Linked DNA regions of Homo sapiens. The protein of the gene in region 6 purifies or fractionates together with the protein of the main gene of each other region. This does not show direct contact. Each region holds a gene or a part of one and is shown on either strand. Other genes may lie near its edges.

Region 1 (3,500 bases), on a different chromosome or scaffold from region 6:
AAATAAAACAAGTATCTCATAAATACAGTACTCTCTAAACATTAGGTTGTATATTTGGCTTTAGAAGGGATTTTTTTTTTTAAGTAGGTGAGAAATCCAACTCTACTTAGATACAGTATATATGTTTGTGTATTTAAAACATTTGACAATACCTTTCTAGTATATCCTTACTTTCCTCTCTAATAATGAACTAATTCCTATCTCTGCAAATTTTCCCAACAACATTTTTGTTAAGTGTGATTGGCTACATTGTCTTTGTTAATAAAAGTTTTATTGACTTAATAGTCTCATTGGAAGTGGATATGGGAGTGCTTTCATGAGCTAACTTTTTGGCACTGAATTTTTTTTTTTTAGTCTAAGTATAGTTTGTTGTATTAATTTAGGTTTGATTCTTAAAAGGAAGAAGTATGTATCTAAGATGAAGCCTGTTGGCTTTGATTTTTTTTAATGAAACATTTATGGCTTTTTTTTTTTTTTTTTTTTTTTTTGCTTTGGACAACCTCAGCCTAATACTTCAGATTTTAAAATAAGCATTGTTCAGCATATGTAAAAAGTAGGTGACCCATTATTGTTAGCTGGGTAGTAAATTGTTTTTCCAGTGTAGGTGGTGTGGAAGGGGTACACTTGTGGCACAATTTTTTTTTTTTTTTTTTTTGGAGATGGAGGCTTTCTCCGTCACCCAGGCTGAAGTGCAGTGGCATGATCTCGGTTCACTGCAGCCTCCACCTCCCAGGTTCAAGCAATTCTCCTGTCTCAGCCTCCTGAGTAGCTGGGACTACAGGTGTGTGCCACCACGCCCAGCTAATCTTTGTATTTTTAGTAGAGACCAGGTTTTGCCATGTTGCCCAGGCTGGTCTCAAAATCCTGACCTCAGGTGATCCACCTGCCTCAGCCTCCCAAAGTGCTGGGATTACAGGCATCAGCCACTGTACCCAGCTGGTACAGATGTTATACATACACTGTCACCCAGCTTATCACCTGCTCCAATTTACAAGGTTTGGTTTAGAATGACTTGACTTTTTCAGGAATTAAACTGATGCTCAAAGGAGAGTGGTTTTCCATAACTATGCAAAAATCAGCTCTAGGTCTAGAGGGTAATTATGAAAAAAGTTAAAAAAATTCTCACCTTATATTAATGGGAAATAGTTTGTCTTTTTTTAACATAAAACAGATGCCATCTTTTTGCCTATCACAGTATCATTATTCAGTACATAAACATGAAGTTCTTCATCCTTGGTCCCTAAGTTTTCTTTATTGTCCCTTATTCCACTGCACCTCCTTACCTTCTATGCTGATGACTTCTTTTCCCACACTTTCTAAAGGCTGGGGTGAGCCCTGGGGGGAGCCTTCTACTCCAGCCACAACTGTGGATAATGGTACTTCAGCATGGGGTAAGCCCATAGACAGTGGTCCCAGCTGGGGGGAACCCATTGCTGCGGCATCCAGCACATCCACGTGGGGCTCCAGCTCTGTTGGTCCACAAGCATTAAGCAAATCTGGTAAGTTATTGACAATGCCTGGTAGCTGTTATGTAGCAGTGGCGAACACTCACTGACTATAATTAAATAATTAGATAAGGTTTCTATGTTATTTATAATATATTCATATAATGTAACATGATAGATGATGTTCAGTATTTTGCTCTTTGATTTTGTAACGTGGTTTATTCTCTTTCTGAATTTTCCTCTTTTCTCATATTTCTTAGAACTGTAACTATTCATTTGCATATACTTCATCAAATCTAAATTATATTTTACCAAATTAGGTTATCTAGGAAGAGTCTACTAGCAACTTTCATGCCATCCAGCCTGAGAGGCCAACTAGTGTAGCCATGAGGACACATATTCAGACTGTCAGATGATTCCCTGAAAGTTACAATTAGCATAGTTCAGAAAAGACCCAAGATTGAAATTAACATTGTCATTATCCCATAGGCTGTGTACAAGATGCCCGGTAGGAATCCCAAGGGCCATGTGTGAAGATAAGATGCTTTCTGCTTAAGGCTTTGAATACTCTCTGGCCATTCTCCCTAAAAATATATATAAAAATTAATTCTTTCAAATTTCATTCATCTTCTTTGTCCTGTGCATCACTATGCAGATTATTAAGTGGGTACAAACAAGAGTGCTACCATTGTCCATGTTCAAGAACTATGATTTGTTAAAGGCATGGAGGAGTTTTATTAAATTTTTAAATAAGAATATATTATTTTTCATGGAAGGTTTAGCTCAGTATAAAACATACTTTCCTTCTGTGCAGATGCAGGAAGGGAAATAAGTGTGCACGTGTGTGTTTTCTTAGGTTCTCTACCCAATTTTTAATATATACTTATTCTCCAGAAGGAATTCTTTTATTAAAGTATGTTTCTCTTTATATCACAAATCCACAATCAGGGCCAAAATCTATGCAAGATGGCTGGTGTGGTGATGATATGCCATTGCCTGGAAATCGCCCCACTGGCTGGGAAGAGGAAGAGGATGTGGAGATTGGAATGTGGAATAGTAATTCATCTCAAGAGCTTAACTCATCTTTAAATTGGCCACCATATACAAAGAAAATGTCATCGAAGGTAAACATTTCAAGGGCAAAGCCCTTGAAACTTTAAATTCCAAAGGTAGTTTACCCACAGAAAATTAACTTTTCGCCTGCCCATTTCTGGCGGTCAGTACAGTCCAGGCAGCCCCCACCTTAGGTATAGCCACTTGTATGGGCAGCCACCTAGAGAAACATAAGAAAGACCACAGGAACTTCCTTTCTCCCCACTGCTACAGCTTGGGATTTCTCTCTTCCTCCCCCTCCACCAGTGCTGCCTGGGACAACCCCTCATCCTAGGGTGGTGCCTGCAGTGGTGAGGATGAAGAGGAGGGCAAATCTCCATGTTGACTCTTTCCATCCCACTGCCAGTTCATCTCCCATTTCATTTCCTCACCTGGAGTCCCCCGCCACCCGCTTACCCAGAGTCACCATCCTCCTTATTCACCTGTCATGTTTGTCCCTATCCCATCCCAAAAGGTCCTGTGACAAAAATCCCTAGGAATGATCTGAGCTTGGTTTTGCTTTTATGTGTGGACAAATCATATTCCTAAAGCTGGCTGTACATCGAAATCCCATGGCATTTGTTAAAAATGCAGCTTCCTGTACCTCAGGTCTACTGAAGTTTTGGAAATTGGACCAAGTTTCTTATCCTAAAGAAACTCCTCAAATGTCTCTGATGCAGAGCCAGGTTTGGGAAGCACTGATTTAGAGCACTGGTTCTTAAGAGGTGGCACTGGGGGCTGCTGTCAGATCCTCCTGGGGACCATTTTCAAAATATGTGCCCAGTCCCCCAGGTGGTTCTAACATAACATCCTAACCCACCCTACTTGAGAATGATTACCTTTTGAGGGACCTTAGAAGTCAGATACCAGTGGATAGCTGGACTAGGTAACTGCCAAGGTTCCTCACTTTTAATCCTGGGATTCTAAGTCTAGGACCTGCCATTTTCATTTTTAAAATTTTTC
Region 2 (3,500 bases), on a different chromosome or scaffold from region 6:
GTGAATTTCTAATTGCACTTTAGATACTCCAGAGCTTGGACCGTATAATTAGTGAGAAAAGTGACCCCACCTTTAACACTTCTGAACGCTGTGTCCCTGTCACTCCTTGCCGCTCCCACCGTCTGTCCCCTGCTTGCCTTCCGCCATTTCTCTTTTCCCATTCTGTTGGCTTCCTTTTTAGCTGTAACTAGCTTGAACTTCATGATCATTCACTTCAGAGTTACACCCTCTACCACCATAGAGTCATGCTTGGTATTCCAGCATCCCATCCTCCCAGTCCCTAGAATAATGACACACCAGGCCAATTCTGGCTCAGTAGTCTCCTACTTAACTGTTATACTCTTCCTTTTTTCCAGTACCCCCAACATTTGAATTCACCATATTTATCCAAAAGGTCGAAGAAATGCTTTGCAAACCCTTCAGTGGGTTGTGAAACCAAATTATTGGATGTTTGCCATTACTTAAAAATAACGGAGTAAAATAGAATGAAAAATAGAATGCAAGGCATATACTATAGGTAAATTCCATGTCATTACACTTTTGTATTACTGTGGGTAGCAGTAAGAATGGCCTCTGCACCTACCCCCGCGCCCCAGTGGAACTAATCTTGCACAGCTTTGGCAGGGTAGACGGCCACATCTTCAGGGAGGTCACTCTCCTGTTGGGACTTGAACAAAACCATTAAGTCCAAATTCCTTATTCAGACTTGTAGACCTTCCTGCGACCTGAACTCATTTGACCTTACTTAATGTTTCACAATCCCTCTACTGTACTTTTTAAAATGTTCCCAACCCAACTGGTCACTATTTCCCCAAGAAATATCCAGTTTCTGCTTATGTCATTCCCTCTTGTTTAACTACTGTACTGTGTCCTACTTTTGCTCATCAAAATTTTACTTACACTTCAAAGCCCATGTCAAATGCCAGCCTTCTTCATGGAATCTCTTGATATTTGAAAAAGTGGACTGGGAATACACACACAGCATGGTGTATGTTTGCAGTGGACATTCTAGTCTGTTGTATTGCACCTACCTGCATAACTGCATATTTACCTCCCCCAGCCACCCGTAGGCTCCTTGAGGCCAGGGACTGTTTTACTCCTCTTGTACCCCATTATGCTTAGCATAGGCACTCAACTCTAATCAGAATATTTGCTGCATTCCATTATATAGCCAGACAAATTAAATTATTTCAAAATCTGGATCAATGGCCATTACTTAAGTTTTGTTTTGTTTTTTTAATCTTAAATTTCTCATACTCTCTTTTCTGACTGGTTCCCAATGGTGATTGATTCTCCTTTCAGCAAATGTTTGAGCACCTGTTAATGCCCAGGCCTGGAGGAGTGAACAGAACAGGAAAGGAAGGAAACCTTCAGGGAGCCTATAGCCTCTGGGTTGAGGAGGTTCATTTAAATCCTTTTTTTCTTGTTTGGAACTTTCTTTAATACTGTAGAACAATATGTTTACTCAGTGAAGACCTGTGAGTGGCTCTCAAGTAGGGTTGACAGTTGAGACATTTGGCAGGGGACATTTGGCAGTGCCTGGAGGCATTTTTGGTTGTCACAGCTGGGGGAGGATGTTAACTGAAGGCATCTATTGGGTGGAGGCCAAGGATGCTGCCAAACATTCTACAGTGCACAGAACAGCCCCCATAGCAAAGAATAATGTGGCCTAAAATACCAGTAGTGCCAAGGTAAGGAAATCTTGGTATGAGCAAATCAAAGAATTATAAGCTTTATGCCTTTGTAAAGTCATATAAATGTTTGCGATAGAGATGTCCAAGTACACCAGGAAGAAAGTAATCAAAACTACAACTTAATTTTCTGAATCAAAATACACGCAGGTATACTTCCTCCTATGTCTAACATGTTTAGATCGACATTGTTCTTCATTTTAGTTTTCTGAAATTTATATGAATAGGAAGAAACTAATTAACACATATTACACATTCCAACCTTAATAAGCACTACACCATAGGAATAAATGTCAAATATCGCGTAACATGAAGAAGAGAGATTTTAGGATTTGAAAACTTAGACTACTTTCCAGTAGATTTATAGGCAGAATTTTCTAAATAAAACAGGCATTTAAATGAATCACAGTTCAGATAAAAATATTCTTAAATTATCTAAATGTCTCCATATAGTTCATCGTTTATTTCCTTTTCGCTTTTTTTTGAGATGAAGTCTCACTCTGTTGCCCAACCTGGAGTGCAGTGACACAATCTCAGCTGACTGCAACCTCCACCTCCCAGGTTCAAGTGATTGTCCTGCCTCAGCCTCCCAAGTAGCTGGGATTACAGGCACGCCATGCCCAGCTAATTTTTGTATTTTTAGTAGAGACAGGGTTTCACTATGTTGGCCAGGCTGGTCTCGGACTCCTGACCTCGTGATCCACCCGCCCTGGCCTCCCAAAGTGCTGGGATTACAGGCATTAGCCACTATGCCTGGCCCTATTTTTGCTTATTTTTATGTTTTCTCTAGAAGTAAATCTGATGAAGACCTTGCCTGTTATCCAGCTCTTAGAGCGATGCTTGGTGTGTAGTACATGCTCAGAAAATATTTGATAAATGGATATGAATCACCAGTTACAGGCAAGGAAGTGTGATGGCAGAAAGATGGTAGGAAGCAGAAGTTTTAAAGTCCCCCTAGAGTTAATTCCAAAATCACTGGTGTCAGCTTGGCCACCTGGTGCAGAGCTTTTATCTTTGAGTAAACCTTTTATGCTTCTTAACTTAGGAGATGTGTTGAGGGCATAAAATGGGTGACTGCTTCAGGAAATGGGCTGCATTTAGCCACCTTTCCTCTTGTTACACCTGGCTTTATCACACATTGTTTCTAGGCATCTTAGGGGACAGTGTAAAAGAGTTGAACTTGACCCACTGCAGTATTTGTAGAGGTGATGGTCAATCTGCATTATGGAGTTTAGGATCTGTGATTTAGAAACGGTACTTTTATGCGCCAGTCATTTGGCATTTCTCAGTTGTCTCTGGAATCAATTAACTTTCTTGAAAGGATGAATTTACCATGTTGGTGTTTTACTGGTTAGTGCAGGAAAGTATACTAGAGGGTTTATTGCTGGAGGGTTGACTTCACAGGTCTGAAGTACATCATTCATCCTCTGAGGTAGAGCACATTTATGAATAGTAGTAACAAGCCAGCCCAGACTGTTGGAGGGGGTCACTAGACTCCATGGATGAGGTGTTTTAATTTCCTGGACCTATGAAGAGTTTGCAAGTGTTACTATCTTGAAATAAATAGTATCAACCTGTGGTTCTTTTTCCTAAATTATGAAAATTGAAATTTTATGTTTTAGATTTTGGAATGGTATTTTAATAAGAATGATATTACTAGGATTTAGCTGAGTCATTAGATTACTAGAGTAGGCTAAATAGATTCTGAATACAAATAATGTGTGTGTTTCTTCCTTTTATCATTGTATTTTTTTATTTTTAAAGTTTGTAAAGTTTAATTTGCATTTCTTTTATGACATCACTCCTTTA
Region 3 (3,500 bases), on a different chromosome or scaffold from region 6:
CTTGGATCCACACACAATTCAGTTGTTATTTTTTAAGTTAATGTTTTTTATATATGGATTTATTTTTGCTTTTTTAGGCTGATTCAGTGTGAAAATGAGGTAGGGAAATTGTTGTTTATCACAGAAATCCCAGAATTAATACTGGAAGACCCCAGTGAAGCCAAAGAGAACCTCATTCTGCAAGAAACATCTGTGATAGAGTCGCTGGCTGCAGATGGGAGCCCAGGGCTAAAATCAGTGCTATCTACAAGCCGAAATTTAAGCAACAACTGTGACACAGGAGAGAAGCCAGTGGTTACCTTCAAAGAAAACATTAAGACACGAGAAGTGAACAGAGACCAAGGAAGAAGTTTTCCTCCCAAAGAGGTGAGAAGGGACTATAGCAAAGGAATAACTGTAACTAAGAATGATGGAAAGAAGGACAACAACAAGAGGAAAACTGAAACCAAGAAATGCACCTTAGAAAAGTTACAGGAAACAGGAAAGCAGAATGTGGCAGTGCAGGTAAGCTGTATTTGAACTATAAAGCAGGTAGAGGAAGGCTCACACAAAAGGCAAGATTTTTCATTTTGTTCTAAAGCCATGAGAATTGGCCGTCCTGGAAGTTTAAATGCATTATTTAATTGCATAGTAAGGTTATATAAAGAGCTGTGATAGATGGTTACTTTTTCAATTCTTGGGAATTGTGAGTGAAAAAAAAATCTCAGCCTGATTTGACACTTTCGTCAGTCTTCACCAATTTAAGCAGTTTGAAAGGATTAGTTGCAGAGTTGTCAGTTTCACACAGGATTATATTTTATTTAGAAGATATAACTACCATTTGTCAATGCTATAGTGGAGATTTGGGGTCTTCTGTAGATCCAGTAGAACCAAGAGTATATTAAGGCTTATGCAGTTTTTTTTTTTAGATTCACTATAATATATATATATGTGTGTGTGTGTGTGTGTGTGTGTGTGTGTGTGTGTGTGTGTATTTTTTTTCTTGGAAAAATATGAGACTTTTTTATTGACAATTATACTTGTCCCGGCTATTGGTATTAATATCACTTTAATCTTATCCTGGATCCTGGGAATTTATAAAGGAAGAACCCAGGTTTCTTGCTGGGAAAAGATAAGCACTGCTCAGTTATTTGTGACTTTCTTTTTATTAATATATTTTCCCAAATAGAAAAGATGGTTTCATGTAAACAGAAAAGGGCCTTTATTCTGTGATGGTTTTATTAATACTATTAATGTTTGAATAAATACTTAAGCAGCCATGTGAGTTGTTAACACATTTTAGCAAATGTATGTGTTTGCATGAGAAACTTTACATTGTTGAAGGCTGCTTACAAATAAATAGTACCTTTGAAGTATTTCTCTAATTTTTTTGAGAAAGAGAAATAAGAAAATAATAGTTCCATTTTAACATTATAGCAAGGAGAGAAACAGAAAGACAAGGTAGAAATTAAGACATAGGGGAGAGAGAGAGATGCTAGGGAAAGGCAAGAAAAAAAAAAATGAACTAGAAAGCCAAAGGATCCGAGTTTTAGAGATAATGAGTCCAGCATTTTCTGTTTACCTTTCCTCCATTCTCTGTAACTGCTCACAATAAGGTCCAGACTGAAAATACAATCTCCTTTTTTGGTTTCTCATCCATCTCAAATCACCTATAAATGATTAAAGAAAGAAAGAGTAAACATATCACCACACTCTGTACCTCGTCCTGGGTTTTCTATAAATGCTACTCATGTTCCCTCATTTTGCTCAACTTTGAGCAGTGCATATGACATCTACTCTCTGGCTCCATCTATAGGATCTCAGGGCCTGTTCCTTACTGCTGAAAGTATCCTTATTTATTCTGAAGGGTGGTAAAGTTGCAGGGTGGAAGGTGGATGCCTGACTGCACATATGGCTACCCAGATGAAATCAAACTGAGGGCCAAAATAACTCACCTATGGGTTAATAGTCATTATTAGTTCATAATTCATGTATGTCGTTTAATGAATTAGAGTATAGAGAACCCTGGGCCCCAGAACAAGCAACTTAAAGTCATAGACAAGTTTTTTTCAACTTGTTAGCATCAGGCATCTCATTTGTAAAACAAATGGGCTCTAAGGTCCTTTACATTTTTGGATTTTTGTGATCATGGGAAAGCAAAATAATTAGTAAAACTAAGATAGTAAAATTATCTTTTATTGGCTATTAAATAATTTGCTTTGATTTTCCATTTTTAACTTAGGTGAATTTAAATATCTTCAGCATGTACTTTTTGATCTAATGAGGTTTTAAATACTTTCTTAGGAGTAGGGTCTTCTTTCTAGCACATTTGAGTTTCAATTTATTATAGATAGTTTTGCTTCTATTGGTTACAGGTAAAATCCCAGACAGAACTAAGAAAGACTCCAGTGTCTGAAGCCAGAAAAACACCTGTAACTCAAACCCCAACTCAAGCAAGTAACTCCCAGTTCATCCCCATTCATCACCCTGGAGCCTTCCCTCCTCTTCCCAGCAGGCCAGGTAAATATGTTTTGTAATTTCTTCTACTTAATCTTTTCTGTGCAAGAATTTCTATTCAGTCACTGAGAAATGTGTTTTCTGTTGGAGTAATGTTACTAAGCCATAAAAAGTTCTATTTTCCCTAATACTTATAAAATTATTTTTGAACTGTTTGTGTGTAGTGTACATACAAGTGCATGTTTGTTATTATGAAGGAAATCCTATCACTAAATACAGAAGCTACTCACAGAACACTGATTACTTCAGTGGATAGAGGAAAAATATCAAGTCTATTTTTAGTTCTTCAAATCAAGTTAAAGATTGACAACATGACTAATCTCTTTTGTGATGTGTTAGAAGACTCCCTCTACCTACCTGTTAAAAAAAAAATGACTTTTTTTGCAATTTTTTGCTGTTTCCTTAAAACTAAAGCTGTGTTCTTCTGTTTTGAAGGGTTTCCGCCCCCAACATATGTTATCCCCCCGCCTGTGGCATTTTCTATGGGCTCAGGTTACACCTTCCCAGCTGGTGTTTCTGTCCCAGGAACCTTTCTTCAGCCTACAGCTCACTCTCCAGCAGGAAACCAGGTGCAAGCTGGGAAACAGTCCCACATTCCTTACAGCCAGCAACGGCCCTCTGGACCAGGGCCAATGAACCAGGGACCTCAACAATCACAGCCACCTTCCCAGCAACCCCTTACATCTTTACCAGCTCAGCCAACAGCACAGTCTACAAGCCAGCTGCAGGTTCAAGCTCTAACTCAGCAACAACAATCCCCTACAAAAGCTGTGCCGGCTTTGGGGAAAAGCCCGCCTCACCACTCTGGATTCCAGCAGGTAAGTTACAGTTGTGTGTACTATCCAGCTGAATGAAATAAGGGGAAATGCTGAAAGATTCAATGTTAGAAATGCTCATTAAACTTTGACATACTTCTTGCTTAGATTTATAGTGATTATGGGAAAACAAAAGTATTGTCTCTACTGTTTATGAAAGTTCAAATGTTTTCCTTACTCTTGTAAAGG
Region 4 (3,500 bases), on a different chromosome or scaffold from region 6:
TGTAAATCACCCATTTGCAATCAATTTTCCTTAATTTCTAGATACACTGGTGATGATACTCAATGCTACTGACGCAGATGAACCGAACAATTTGAACTCAAAAATAGCCTTCAAGATTATAAGACAAGAACCTTCAGATTCACCAATGTTTATTATCAACAGAAATACTGGAGAAATTCGAACGATGAATAATTTTCTAGACAGAGAGGTAATTCTTTTTCTTTAAGTGGGTTTTTGGTCTCAAAGGAACTGATTCTAAAAGCAAGGATACTGAAGAGACAAAGAGATGAAGAAAATGATGGTTTAAATTTTTACTTGTATAACTTTTTCACATAATTCTTTCATGTAAGAAATATTTTTTAAATGAAAAAGGGAGGATTTTTCAATTACGTTTTGTACTATTTTTCATATAATTAATTGATTAAAATTTACTTCAATTTAAGAAAACTATATTGTGAAAGTACATGAAAATATGCCTAAGGTAGAATCTAAGGTAGAATCAAAAGCTCCATTTCTCTAAAAAGTGTGTTCTATAATAAAATGAATTTAGGAATGACTTGCTATATGTCCACGTTTTGGTGAGTTACAGTGCATGCGAGTATGCTGGAGGCTCCAGGAATATTGATACACTAAGTTCTCTTTCTTTAACCTAGCATATCTAAGCTCCATTGACAACAGAATTCTTGTTTTTCCTATGTAACATCTATTGATAGCTCACCCATTCATTTACTTTGGGAAATGAACCACAGGATAAGAATGATGGATAGGAATTAAATGACAGACTGACCAATCTTTTTATTTACAAATAAGAAAATAACTAGTGATGTTAACAGAGTAAAATCAGCATTATGAGGTTTCTAGCATGCCTTGTGATTTTATGATTTAGTTTTAAAATAAGTGCTTTTTCATTATTTAAAAAAAATTGTCTTTTAATAGAATGTTGCAACCTAAATGTACATTAGGAGCATAAGTGAGGAAGCTTTATTTTCTGATGGTATTCAATTAATTTTGTTTTAATTATTAAAAATGACAATCTTCTTGCTGATGACTTTTAGGTTTAGGATAATTCATATTATTTTAATACTCTTTAATTATCTAAATGTTACAAGTTTCTATGTTACCTAAGTCTCCTTTTATACATGTTTGAAAATCAACATTAGAAGAAATTGAATGTTTACACTTTTCTCTCTCAAACTGTCTTAAACAGCCCAATGAGGTTTCTTTCATGTCAAAAGAGCTTTCGTGGTAAAGCACTGTAAGAAAGGGCTGTCAGAAGGAAAGGGACTCTGCAGCCATTGGGAAGCCACCAGGGCAGATATTCTCAACCTGGGGTCAATGGAGAGACCTCAAGATGTCTCTATAAAACCCCCTAAATTATATCCACCATTTTGAATGAGTGTGCATTTTTGCATGAGTCAAGGAAAGCCTCCATAGATTTTACCAGCTTCTAGAAATATAAGCACCATTGAATAGAGTCAAGAATAGATACATCACCAATAATTCCACTGCCATAACCCACTACCTCTCAAAACACAAAGCTTTGTTATCTGTTTATATGCTTCTTGCACACTCGGGGGCTGATTATTTAGGTTATGGAATATTCATGCCATAAATTTTTGGTAAACTTAATCTCTCTCCTTGAGATCATTCTGGTTTGTTTTACCCTTTATAAACTTTTTCAACCTCTGGACATATTATTATTAATAAGAAATGAAGCCTTTTAAAACGTGTTGCATCTTTTAAATAATGCGTGATAAGTATTATTGGGAATAATCATGTGAAACTTGTGGATTTCCCATATTCTGTGTTAACCCTACCTCTATCATAGATTTATGTAAACGTTGAGCCAACTTTTCAAAGAACTTTACATAAGACAAAGTAAAGGCTGTCTACGTCAAGTGTGATATTGCCTGTAATATGTATTTTTAGCAATACGGCCAGTATGCTCTTGCTGTAAGAGGCTCTGACCGAGATGGCGGGGCAGATGGCATGTCAGCGGAATGTGAGTGCAACATTAAAATCCTCGATGTCAATGATAATATCCCTTACATGGAACAGTCTTCAGTAAGTATTTGTTCTTGGAATTAATAAATCTAAATTCGCTATATTCTAAAACATATACGAACAATTCTGCTTACAGAGGCACATGTTATGTTTATTGACATACAACCCAAATGTAGACACATACTTTTTTCTTGTGTTTATGCAAGAATAAATGGAGTTAAGCAATGAAAAATGAGATGAAAACCACAGATATCTTTTCTAAATAATGAAGTTATCAACATTCCAGTATAAGCCTACTGTAGTTCTCTCTCTTTCACACAGTTTGTGCTAAGAGTTTTCACTTCTTGTTTCAGTATACCATAGAAATTCAAGAAAATACTCTAAATTCAAATTTGCTCGAGATTAGAGTAATTGATTTGGATGAAGAGTTCTCAGCTAACTGGATGGCAGTAATTTTCTTTATCTCTGGAAATGAAGGAAATTGGTTTGAGATAGAAATGAATGAAAGAACAAATGTGGGAATTTTAAAGGTTGTTAAGGTATGGTATAATTATCCTAAATATTTTGTTTTCTTAATCTTTTTTCAAAATGTTAAACTTAAAATAAAATGATGCTAACATTTCACAAACTTGGCTTAGTGAAAGAATAAAAATTACTGTGTTTTAAATATATATATAACATAGAGCTTTTTAATATAGTCTTTCTGCTTATAATCATTTTAGAAAAACAGGTATTGAATTTTAACTGGAGACAGTTTGTCAATACAGTACTCCCAAATAGATCATATAAATTGAAAACACTTAAAAATATATTTTATGCTTACAACAAAGTATAATTAATCCTTAAGGTTAATGTCTTAAGAACTTTTTAAAGCATATTTAATAGAGGCTTTAAAACTGTGTCCATGTCAACATTGTAAGTCAATTATTACACATGTAGAATATTCATCATGTAAATAAAAATGTATTTATTCCTCCCGCGTGTTTTCATAAAATTTAAGTTAAATTACTATAAATGTAGAATTATCACACTCCCATCTCACTGTGGCTGCTGATCAAGGCTTATTAGGAACACAGATATACTGGAAATTTGGTCCAAGTCAACCGGTCCAGAACAACTGGATGCCGTTCTCTTATGTCCTCCCCATATTAATGGTCCACATTTACCTGCAGTAAAATTTCATCTGAGATGTGAGAAAAAAAATTTGCCTCCTAGGGAGCTGATAGTCAAAGTTTCGCCCTGTGCTACACAACTTACACAGTCGATTTTTAAAATCTACAACAGCTGTTTATGGATTGTATATGTTGCATGCAATATATAGTTTCATGGTAAAATATAATCCCTATTTAACTATTTCTTTTTTCAGACTAGGTCTGGAAAACAGACTCTCAAACGACTCTGTCCCCATACGAATGTGTGGCTTTTTGCCTCCTGTGTCTTCTTAAAGTGTCACCATGCCTACAGCTTGTATTTAATTTGAGACAGTACGCAGGTGC
Region 5 (3,500 bases), on a different chromosome or scaffold from region 6:
TACCAAACCATATTACCTAACCTCAAATGGACCCTTTATCATCTCTCATCTTTTCTAACCTTTTCTTTTTTTCTTTTTCTTTGTTTGTTTGAGATAGAGTCTCACTCTGTTGCCCAGGCTGGAGTGCAGTGGTGCAATCTTGGCTCACTGCAACCTCTACCTCCTGGGTTCAAGCGATTCTCATGCCTCAGCCTCCCGAGCAGCTGCGACTACAGGTGTGCATCACCACCACGTTAGCCAGGCTGGTCTTGAACTCCTGGCCTCAAGTGATCCACCTGCCCTTGGCCTCCCAAAGTGCTGGGATTACAGGCGTGAGCCACCGTATCTGGCCTCTAACCTTCTTTTATGGACTTCTTTCTAGAATACCCCCCAACAAATTCCAGAACAGTAATTGTCAACTCTGGCTACACATTCAGATCCTGAGGAGTTTAAAACAAATTCTGATCTAGGTCCCTTGATCAATCAAATAAGAATTTCTCATTTTACTGGGAAAGGGTAGCTATCTATATATAATTTTAAAGTAATTCTAATGTGCAGCTCAATTTGAAAACCATTGTTCAATAACCTCTTTTGATAACTTAGGAAATAGGAGATCAGTGGATCAGCTTTTAACAACCACATCGGAGACTACAGCTTGCTAGATCCTGAACTTACACATCCCAAGCCATCTGCAGTGGATTTGTCCTCCAAGGTGAAGTCAACATGGCTCCTCTACCCATTTCTTTATCACTCATTAATTTCATATAACCTCACAATATGACTTGTGACTCACCACTGATTGAACTAAAACTGGTTTTTTGAAGGTCACCAAAATATTTCTAATCAATTCAAAAGGCGATTGGATTCATCCTCAAATATGAAGTTCAAACGCCTGTTCTGCCCTTCCATCTTCCCTCTTATGAACCTTGGTATCATTAGTTTCTGTGATCACAAAAGCTAAAAACCTCATACATCTTTATTTTTTTTCTTCTCTCACCCTCAAGTTTAGTCACTAAGCCTTAATAAATTTCCATTATATATTCCCTCACTGCCTCTGGAATCTCCTCTCTAGAGTTAGTCCCTCTGATTCAGCTTGGCCAGTGATATTTTAAAATGCAGTCTTAACTTCTCCTTTGTTCCAAATTGTACAGAAGCTACATCCCTAAGCATTCCAGACTATGTCAGTTTAATTCCAATCTTTCAACTTCATTTAACTCTCACATGAACCCTACAAAATAACTGGATGAGCGGATATAGTTGGTGCATTAAGTCTTTTTTTATGAGGCAGAGTCTCACTCTGTCACCCAAGCTGGAGTGCAGTGGCGCCATCTCAGCTCACTGCAAGCTCCGCCTCCCGGGTTCACGCCATTCTCCTGCCTCAGCCTCCCGAGTAGCTGGGACTACAGGCTCCCGCCACCACGCCCGGCTAATTTTTTGTATTTTTAGTAGAGACGGGGTTTCACCGTGTTAGCCAGGATGGTCTCGATCTCCTGACCTTGTGATCTGCCTGCCTCCCAAACTGCTGGGATTACAGGCGTAAGCCACCGTGCCCGGCCACATTCTTTACACATCCTCTGTAGTGAGTTAAAGATCACCATGAATTCTTTGCCATTCCTCCCACCAACAGGTGGAGACTATTTACCCCCACTTTGAATCTGGACTGGCCTCATGACTTTGACTAAGAGAATGTTACAAAGGGCCCTTTAAGAAACCTGGTACTCTCTTGAGATTGAGATTGTCGTGGCCAACATGGTGAAACTCCATCTCTACTACAATATAAAAAATTAGCCAGGCGTGGTGGCGCATGCCTGTAATCCCAGCTACTTGGGAGACTGAGGCAGGGGTATCTCTTGAACCTGGGAGGTGGAGGTTGCGGTGAGCTGAGATTGCGCCACTGCGCTCCAGCCTGGCGACACAGCAAGACTCTATCTCAAAAAAAAAAAAGAAAAAAGAAAGAAACCTGTACCCTCCACTTACTCTGTTAGACAATTGCCATGCTATAAAGCTTTGACTAAACTCTTAAATCATAGAAATCCACACAGAAAGAGACCTAAAAGATATTCCAGCCGAGGCCAACCTCTGAGCTGAACACAGCCTGCTCGATTGAGTTCAGTCTGCAGCATGTGGAACAGAAACACTGCCCAGCTGAGCCCAGTCAAACCACAGAATTATGGGAAGTAAGAAATCACTGTTTTAAGCCACTAAGCTTTGGGGTGGTCTGTTAGTGAAGCAATGGTGAATTCCAACATCCTCAGAGCACCATCATCTGCCTTCTCTCCAATAACCAAATAATCACCCATCCTTCAAATTAGTGGACAAGCATCACCTCACAGAGTTCTTCTCAACTACTCTGCTGGCCTGGAGTACCTCCTCTAGCATCTGACATGCTATATAACTCATGCTGACCCTCTTGTCTGGTGCCTTGAGTTATCTCTTACATAATTATTTTACTTCTAGTAATTACGATGGTTCCCATTGAAGCACAGAAAATGGAACTTGTGCTTGTTTCTTGTAAGTTAAGTGTAACATATGTGTTTTAAAATATTCCTCCAAAATGTATGAGAAGGCATCCAGGTAAAAAATTCATGCTACTTCATGCAACCCACCTCAAGTGGTTCTCAACCCTGGGGGTTAAATATATGAGACAGTGTTTATTTAGACCAGGACTAGGGCTAATGAAGCAAAGCAGACTTAAGACTAAAAATCTGGAGCCATGGAAACAAAGTCTTATCAGGATAAGGGTAGACACTTTGATTAATGATCGGACTCAAACAGCTTGAGAATATAAACTGAAGGCTCATTAGTTATTAATAATTCCAATTTAATTATAATTAAAACCAAATTTGGAGTTTCTTTATTTCAAGGGCTCTCAAAAGCCCAACCATCAGCCAAAATCTATCTTCAATTAGATAATGATTAGGAACTTAATACAGCAAGAATTTTGTTTCACACTGAAGTTGAATATTACTTTGTTTTTTTAAAGTTTATATGCAGATTCTTGCTCTAAATTAGTGATCTAAACCTTTTAATCATAGGACCCTACAGAGTAAACAAGTTTGGAGTAAACATCCAATCCATAGACATGTTTTACTGTAACACATAATGCACATTAGAAAACAAAGGACAAAACTGAAACTTGGTACAATGAGAAAAAATAAAAATAAAAGTGCCAACATATTCTTCCAGTACCCTAAAGTATCACCTTGAATATCCCTTTGGGGAGTACAAACCCCACTTGGTAGATAACTGCGCTGGTTCATCAACTGATAGGGGAAAAACCCAACCACACTCTTGGTCTTCATGTAATTCTGTGAATAAAATTTGAAATAAATATATTAAATAAATAAAGTAATACCTGCTGGTGGAAAAGTTCTTCCTCAACAACCACTCCAGCTGCTTCTTCCTCCTCCTCCTCTTCTTCAGGTATGGTTGTTTTAAAGACTGTACTTCTTTGAGCAACCTCCTAAAAACAATAGTAGTTTAAGTTAAAAAACACACTTAAAATCACCAAATGCGGGGGA
Region 6 (3,500 bases):
CCTGTACAATTAAACCTCACATAGACACACAGCAAACCCAAATGTATATACTTCCCTCAGTGGAAGAAGTTGAAAATCTAGATCTAGAAATGTATAAAAAATGGCCTTGAAAACCTGCTATACCAAAATACCTCTACAGACAAGATAAAAACAAAAACAAAAATCAAACATTTGTTTTCCGGATTTTTCTTTAATACAGTTGCCATCTTACATGATGTACTATTAAGTGCCTTCTTAATAGCATCTAACCTACCCTTCTGTTGCACCGTTTGGCCTCCTGGGATGGAACTCTTGTTACCACCCATGTTTGTGGAGTACTGTTCTTCAGTACAGTACACCTAATTCATATTGTCAGGCCATATAATTCACGGGTAGTGGTATTAATTTCTAAAGCTGAATTAAAGCACACATCCAAACCACATATATTTTTTACTTTTCAACTTAAAGAGTTCATACAAAGTCTATTTCCTTTCTACAGTAGCTATCACTCCAGACTGTGGTTTAAAAATCCAAGAAGTGGGAAGAATGTCTTTGTTTTCAATGCTTCTTTCTTCCATCCTTTTTCTATCCTCCTTTTTTCCTTCTTTCCATTTTCTTTCTTCTATTCATCTCCTTCTTTCCTTTCTTTCTTAGTGATAAGAGGTTAACAGAAATGGGCTATTAAGGAAATCAAAGTCTAGTAAACGTCCAAAACAGAGATGAGAATAGTCACAAACTCTTCTTTTTGTAGTGATGTTAAATTACTGACAAATGTTTTTTTGAAAACAAAAAAATCTAAAAACCAGCACAAGCTAGTGGTGCTGCATATTATTTAAGCAACTGGCGTTCTTCAATGCTTTTGAGGCGTTTCTTCCGGGGCTGTACAAAGTCATCATCTGAATCATCACTAAATTTATTATCTTCTGATTCATTCCTGAATTCTGGTTTGGGAAACCTTTTTTCTGGATAGAGGTTCTTTAGAAGTTCTTCAAAATAATTTTCAAGTTTTATACCAGCATTGGCTACTTCTGAATCAGGCTGTGGAGTAAAAATAAAAATGAGTAAAAAAAGGACACACTTTTGACTTCTGAGATTATATATATTAATGAGCTGTTTTGAAAAGTGTTCATGCATAGTCATTGAAATAATAGTTTAGGACTAGACAAAGTCTCTGTACAGAAGGCCAGCTAAAATAAAAGATTCAGAAGTGTGGAAAAAAGATAAAAGTAAAAGCCTGGATTATTCTAAAAGAAGGTGGTAATGGTAGGACTATATTGCCAAACACATATCAGTTAGGATTCCATAACCATAGGATCATGAACCAGGTATTTTTAGAACAAATTAAATGTAGTACTATTAGAATGAGTAACAGAGAACAAACCACCAGCAGCAAAAGGTTCTAAGTCTGACTGATGTGTAGATGAACTGACAGATGAGAAATTTTTAAATTAGAGCTATTTGGCCCACATCCTTAATATTTCAAGATCAACATAAAAATAAGAAATACAGGTGGGAATGATAAAGAATATGTCTAGGTCAGAGAAAAACATTTTGTCTTTCAGTTATCAGCTGTAATTTGCATTTCCATCACCATCTAATAAACCTTTGAATATAAATGTGGACAGAGTTATCTGAATTATCTCTTGCATTCCCTGATCTGAAAAGTTGGAAATTTATTCTAACTCAGACATCTTGGTCTCCTATGTTGACAAGGTGTTTAGTAATAAAATGATTTTCACACTGCTGTTCCTTCCTGCCCCCTTCCCTCCCCTAGCCTCACCTCATTGAATTCAGCACAGTTTTGAAAGATCAATCTAAAATCAGCTACAAAATCTTCAGGTTTTGAGTACATGGAATAATCTTCTTGTAGTCTTTTCTTGATGGTTGACAAATCCATTGGATTTTTAATTATTTTGTAATAATCAGGCACCTATTAAAAAAATGAGATGTTATAATACAAATAGCTAAATTCCACCTTGTCCTAAATATATTCTATGAGATGTGCTCTAAAATTCAGAATGTTCTCATTGCTTTTCTCTGTGCTATTTGCCATTAGTAAAGAAACCCATTTAACAGTGTTTACAAGTGCCCACTGCCTTCCACACACACTGGTAAAGGTTTGTGTGACTTTTTCCAAAAGTTTAACCAATTATTATTTTTGAGACAGGGTCTTGCTCTGTCACCCAGGCTGGAGTGCAGTGACACAATCTCGGCTCACTGCAAACTTTGCCTCCTGGGCTTAAGTGATCCTCTCACCTCAGCCTCTCGCGTAGCTGGGGTTACAGGCATGCGCTAACATAGCCGGCTAATTTTTGTATTTTTTGTAGAGATGGGGTTTTGCCATGTTGCCCAGGCTGGTCTCAAACTCCTGGGTTCAAGCAATCTGCCTGCCTCAGCCTCCCAAAATGTTGGGATTACAGGCGTGAGCCACTGCACCCAGCCCCAATTATTTTTAATGAAAAAACTTGTCTTCACATATTTCCTCTTAATCATCTAGATTTTTTTCTTCATTATTAAACAAAAAGCAATTACTAGGAAGAATATCATTTCTAGTAGAATCTGACATGTTTTTGCTGCATGTATTATACAAGAGGAAGAAGGACTTTGAATCTGGGTTTAATCCCCAGCTCTGCTGCTCAGTGTCATGGTCCTGGGTAAGCTACTTAACCTCAGTTTCTTCATATTTCAAATAGGGATAATCCTGCCAAACTCACAGCATTTTGTACAGACTAAATGAGATGATATTTATTAAGAAAAAGGGGGCTACTTTGTCATTGTTGGTATTAATAACGTAACTGTAAGCCAGGATAATAAAAAGTACAATTCAAGGTTACATTTTCAAGTTGGTAATGTTGTTACAAGCCTCTCGACTTCTTTACCCTGCCTCTTTTGGGTACAAAAGACCCTTCTCCCTGGAGGTATTTATTTCCTATATCAAGTTCTCAAAACCTGTTCTTAAGAGAGAAGCTGACTGTATTTACTAAGCTGATTTTCTTCTCAACTTTGTATTAATTTGAGATTTATCAAACTGTAGAACAAATGAAAAAAAATTTTTTTTTTGGGACAGAGTTTTGCTCTTGTTGCCCAGGCTGGAGAGCAATGGCGCAATCTCGGCTCACTGCAACCTCCGCCTCCGGGGTTCAGACATTAGAAGAATACTCTTTTGGGGTACCAGGCCCTTTCCAGCACTCTAAAATTATGCGTTAAAGTCACATCAAACTTTTTTTTTTTTTTTTTTGAGACGGAGTCTTGCTCTTTTGCCCAGGCTGGAGTGCAGTGGCATGATCTCGGCTCACTGCAAGCTCCGCCTCCCAGGTTCACGCCACTCTCCTGCCTCAGCCTCCCGAGTAGCTGGGACTACAGGCGCCTGCCACCACACCTGGCTAATTTTTTGTATTTTTAGTAGAGACGGGGTTTCACCGTGTTAGCCAGGATGGTCTCTATCTCCTGACCTCGTGATCCGCCCGCCTCGGCCTCCCAAAGTGCTGGGATTATAGGCGTGAGCCACCGCGCCCGGCCAC
Region 7 (3,500 bases), 3.2 Mb from region 6:
CCAAAGATAGGACCATAATTTAATGTCACATTTTTTCCATAAAGCATCTACTTTAGACGAAGATTTTAAATGACTAACACAAGGACAACTAAACTCACTAATCAGCGATTTCTCATTACCAGTGCAGCATTCTGAGAATAACTATTGGTTTGAAATATATGGGTTAAAACTACTCTTCAGTGTTAAGGGATAATATGATGACTATGAAATTGGAAGAAAATCAAAGATCGTCATGTAATAAGTCAAATAAAAGCACAAAAAGAAGACAGCTAATAACTAGAATCCCATAAAGGCATCCTACTTCCTATCATACCAAGTCCATGCCATTTTGCCTCATTGTCAGAGTTTCTCATCTTCTCATCCATTATATCTATACAATTTAAGAAGCACCTCCTGTTATAGGAGGTAGCTGTATTACTTCTCAGTGTAATGACATACTAATTCCTGCCTCTATGCCTTTACTCAGGAGGTTTCCATCAACATAAAAGGCCTTTTCTCTTCCCCTGCTGCTAACCCAAATCTAAGATATGATAGTAGGGATCAATTCCTACTTATTCAATGAAGCCTCCCCAAGAATTACAGGGTACATTGATGTCTCTCAGATTCCAGTATCAGACATATAGTTACCACTTTCACACATTATTTTAGTCTCTTCAACTATACTTTAAGTATGTGGAAATTTTATCCATATCTTAAACTTCTTTAATATGTCCCACATGTCCTAATTCATTGATGGGCAAATAGAAACCCTCATATTCACTGTAATTGGTCTAATCTTTAAATGTTTTGATGATTTGGGAGAACTTAACTTTAACTTTTAATGAATGTTATAATCAATTATGAGATACACTACTAGTAATTAAAATGCCACATTTCTCAATGATTAAAGCAAAGTAAAATCAAAGAAAATTACATTCTAATATGCTATCTTGAATGGAAGGAAATAAAAGGAGTATTTGGAACTGAACACATTGTTTCACAAGTAAGTATCATGTAGAAGAAGAGGACTGAAAAATGTCACTCTGGTTACCTACTAACTACCATAATTAAATGAACAAATAAGAGTCCCAACACTGTGCAAATAACTACATTACGTGCTACCAGGCTTATGTAAATTAACTTCACTGTATCAACGGTAAATTTCACTATGTCAACAGCCACAAACTATATTCTCTTAACCTAGCTACTCGTCTAAAACATGAAATATTGTCGGTCCCAAAGGGAACAGGGATAAAGAACTTTGATAGACCTCTGTAAATTCATCTATCAGCCTTGCTAAAAACAAGAGCGTGAACTTCTGCCTTGCTGCTGATAAAAGTATCCTATTACAATAATACTGTGCCATGCCATATCTAACAAGGGATAACAATAAATTGTATGAATTATGTGAAGAACTATTCTAACAGAGTGAGAAACTATTGTATTCTACTTGAGAGAATCATGATTCTATTTCACTTGAGAGAATCAGGAGAGGAACAAACTTTTTTTAACATCATCTCTAAAGCCAAAGTTAAACGAGAACACTATTAACAAGAATAATTCCCTTGGATATAGAAGATACTTCATCTAAAAAATGTTATATAGAATCTTAAAACCCAAAAGTTCTGAAACCTTCAAGGGTAGCAGTACAAAACCAGAAGTATTTTGGCATCAAACTTACATTACCTTATATATACTTCATATTTTTCCCCAGAAATAAAAACATGGCAGATCAAATGGGAAAGTATCTTTCCTTGAACAATTTCTCTTTCACAAAAGGTGTATGTCTGAGACATATGATATGCTTGTAAAACATTCATAATCAGAGTTCTCAAGTATATTTATAGCTCAGTTTTGATGTGTGTGTATATGTGTATCAGTCAAAACAAGTAACTGCCAAAAGTAGGTAGAGAGTGGCTTTATCCCTCATGCTCTCATTAATTATCATTAAAAAAATTTTTTTTAACCATTTTACTTTAGAATATAAAATCATAATTTTCACCACGGTGTTGGACTTTATAGTACCATAACTTCAGAGACCATTTTCTTCTTTTTCATTTTGCATTTGTATACCATATGAAAGTTTGGTAATTATCCTATTAAGTAAAATGCTTCCAAACAATAACTAAGTATAATACTCCACCATCCTTATAAAGCTCAATATTACAAGGCATCCATCTAATGAAAAATATATTTTAGATTATGATAAAGACTAATCTTTCATAGACATTTCCAAGATATTAGTACTCTGTTATTCAACAGTTACTTCCCTATCCACCCAACAACCTGAAAATATGAGTTATTCAAAAATTCTCAAAGGTTTTAAATGAACCTACCTGCTACAGGGATCCCTCCCAGACCTGTGTTGTGCTGTGGCGGGAGATTCAAGTCCAAGAAATTACTATTTGAGGTGGGGTTTGCTGTGTGGTTCAAGTGCATGATGCTATTGCGTGGAAAGGCCATCCAAGGATAGCGGGCTGCCTGGCCTGGAAAACTGAATGAATTATAAACCGCTCGGTGCTGCTGAAATTGAGGGAACCTCTGGGGCAAGACTGAAAAGGTACTATTGAGAGAATTGGCATTTGTAGCTGCAGCAGGATGCAGGAATCCAGAGCCTGGACCTTTGGCGGTTGTAGTGTGTGAAGAGGAGTTCTGAAGAGATGTGGGCGAAAGGGAAGGTTGGTCTTGAACGGACAGTTCCTTCTCAATCAGGTCTGCTAAGGCTTTTCGAGTGACATCGAAGGGATCAAAACCCAAGTCATCCTCTGGTTGTTTAGAAGAACCAAAGCCAAAAGCTGCTTGCCAGTCTGTAGAGGATGATACTGGGATTGTTTCTGTTGGGAAGAAAAATAGTGATGAATATCAGATACATAGCTCATTTTCATACTTAATAAGTATCCATGCTACTGAAAGTTAAACATGTCATTTTACAAATTAAGTAAGTGCAAAATCTATGTGACTTCTTAGCACATTAAGATCATATAATTACAAAAGGCCTTATGTACTTCTAGCAGTTACTTAACTCTTAAGCTACTAGCTTCAAAAACTGAATGATATAGACTGATTTTGCTAATCAAAGGAAAAAAATGTACTTGACACTCCAATTATACTCTCAACCATTCATAATCAAAACCAACCTAAGTCACTTCCATCAAATAAATATAACAGATTTTAATTAGTAAAGTTGATTTTTAAATGTATTTATCAAAGTACAAATAATTTTGAATACATGCTTTCTATACTAAGAAAAATATAATTTAATTAAAAAGTATTTATATTAATCCTCATAGTTTTTTGGAATTTTCTGCTCCACAGGTGCTGTTGTCAATGTTACTTTTATGCCACCTTTCATAGTAATGAGAGAATTTAGAATGGATAAAAATGGAAATGGCTCAAAAATACCATTTAGTAGTAACATAACTGTTACTACTAAATAACTTGCATCTTTGTCAGCTGGGGGTGGAAAATCTTAAACACAAATCTAATTAAATAAAAATACAAATCTAATTAAAAATCTAAGT

What was found.
Region 1: the proteins of TRIM24 (region 6) and TNRC6A purify together in Homo sapiens (affinity purification with mass spectrometry; 2 studies listed by BioGRID, with this or other methods). This does not show direct contact.
Region 2: the proteins of TRIM24 (region 6) and FAM120A purify together in Homo sapiens (affinity purification with mass spectrometry, with the first as the bait; one large-scale study listed by BioGRID). This does not show direct contact.
Region 3: the proteins of TRIM24 (region 6) and SMG7 purify together in Homo sapiens (affinity purification with mass spectrometry, with the first as the bait; one large-scale study listed by BioGRID). This does not show direct contact.
Region 4: the proteins of TRIM24 (region 6) and DSG1 purify together in Homo sapiens (affinity purification with mass spectrometry, with the first as the bait; one large-scale study listed by BioGRID). This does not show direct contact.
Region 5: the proteins of TRIM24 (region 6) and LMNB1 purify together in Homo sapiens (affinity purification with mass spectrometry, with the first as the bait; one large-scale study listed by BioGRID). This does not show direct contact.
Region 7: the proteins of TRIM24 (region 6) and CNOT4 purify together in Homo sapiens (affinity purification with mass spectrometry, with the first as the bait; one large-scale study listed by BioGRID). This does not show direct contact.

Annotation. Positions count from the first base shown.
Region 1 is NC_000016.10:24,792,151-24,795,650, forward strand, and holds part of TNRC6A (trinucleotide repeat-containing gene 6A protein), read left to right. Parts: intron 1-1,322; coding exon 1,323-1,499; intron 1,500-2,393; coding exon 2,394-2,569; intron 2,570-3,500.
Region 2 is NC_000009.12:93,458,185-93,461,684, forward strand, and holds part of FAM120A (constitutive coactivator of PPAR-gamma-like protein 1), read left to right. Parts: intron 1-3,500. UniProt on the Homo sapiens protein: Component of the oxidative stress-induced survival signaling. May regulate the activation of SRC family protein kinases. May act as a scaffolding protein enabling SRC family protein kinases to phosphorylate and activate PI3-kinase.
Region 3 is NC_000001.11:183,541,999-183,545,498, forward strand, and holds part of SMG7 (nonsense-mediated mRNA decay factor SMG7), read left to right. Parts: intron 1-77; coding exon 78-504; intron 505-2,354; coding exon 2,355-2,499; intron 2,500-2,931; coding exon 2,932-3,314; intron 3,315-3,500. UniProt on the Homo sapiens protein: Plays a role in nonsense-mediated mRNA decay. Recruits UPF1 to cytoplasmic mRNA decay bodies.
Region 4 is NC_000018.10:31,331,660-31,335,159, forward strand, and holds part of DSG1 (desmoglein-1 preproprotein), read left to right. Parts: intron 1-41; coding exon 42-208; intron 209-1,929; coding exon 1,930-2,064; intron 2,065-2,357; coding exon 2,358-2,543; intron 2,544-3,500. UniProt on the Homo sapiens protein: Component of intercellular desmosome junctions. Involved in the interaction of plaque proteins and intermediate filaments mediating cell-cell adhesion.
Region 5 is NC_000005.10:126,832,636-126,836,135, reverse strand, and holds part of LMNB1 (lamin-B1), read right to left. Parts: intron 3,443-3,500; coding exon 3,335-3,442; intron 1-3,334. UniProt on the Homo sapiens protein: Lamins are intermediate filament proteins that assemble into a filamentous meshwork, and which constitute the major components of the nuclear lamina, a fibrous layer on the nucleoplasmic side of the inner nuclear membrane.
Region 6 is NC_000007.14:138,582,259-138,585,758, reverse strand, and holds part of TRIM24 (transcription intermediary factor 1-alpha), read right to left. Parts: intron 1,910-3,500; coding exon 1,760-1,909; intron 1,018-1,759; coding exon 808-1,017; 3' UTR 1-807. UniProt on the Homo sapiens protein: Transcriptional coactivator that interacts with numerous nuclear receptors and coactivators and modulates the transcription of target genes.
Region 7 is NC_000007.14:135,391,603-135,395,102, forward strand, and holds part of CNOT4 (CCR4-NOT transcription complex subunit 4), read right to left. Parts: intron 2,814-3,500; coding exon 2,316-2,813; intron 1-2,315. UniProt on the Homo sapiens protein: Has E3 ubiquitin ligase activity, promoting ubiquitination and degradation of target proteins. Involved in activation of the JAK/STAT pathway. Catalyzes ubiquitination of methylated RBM15.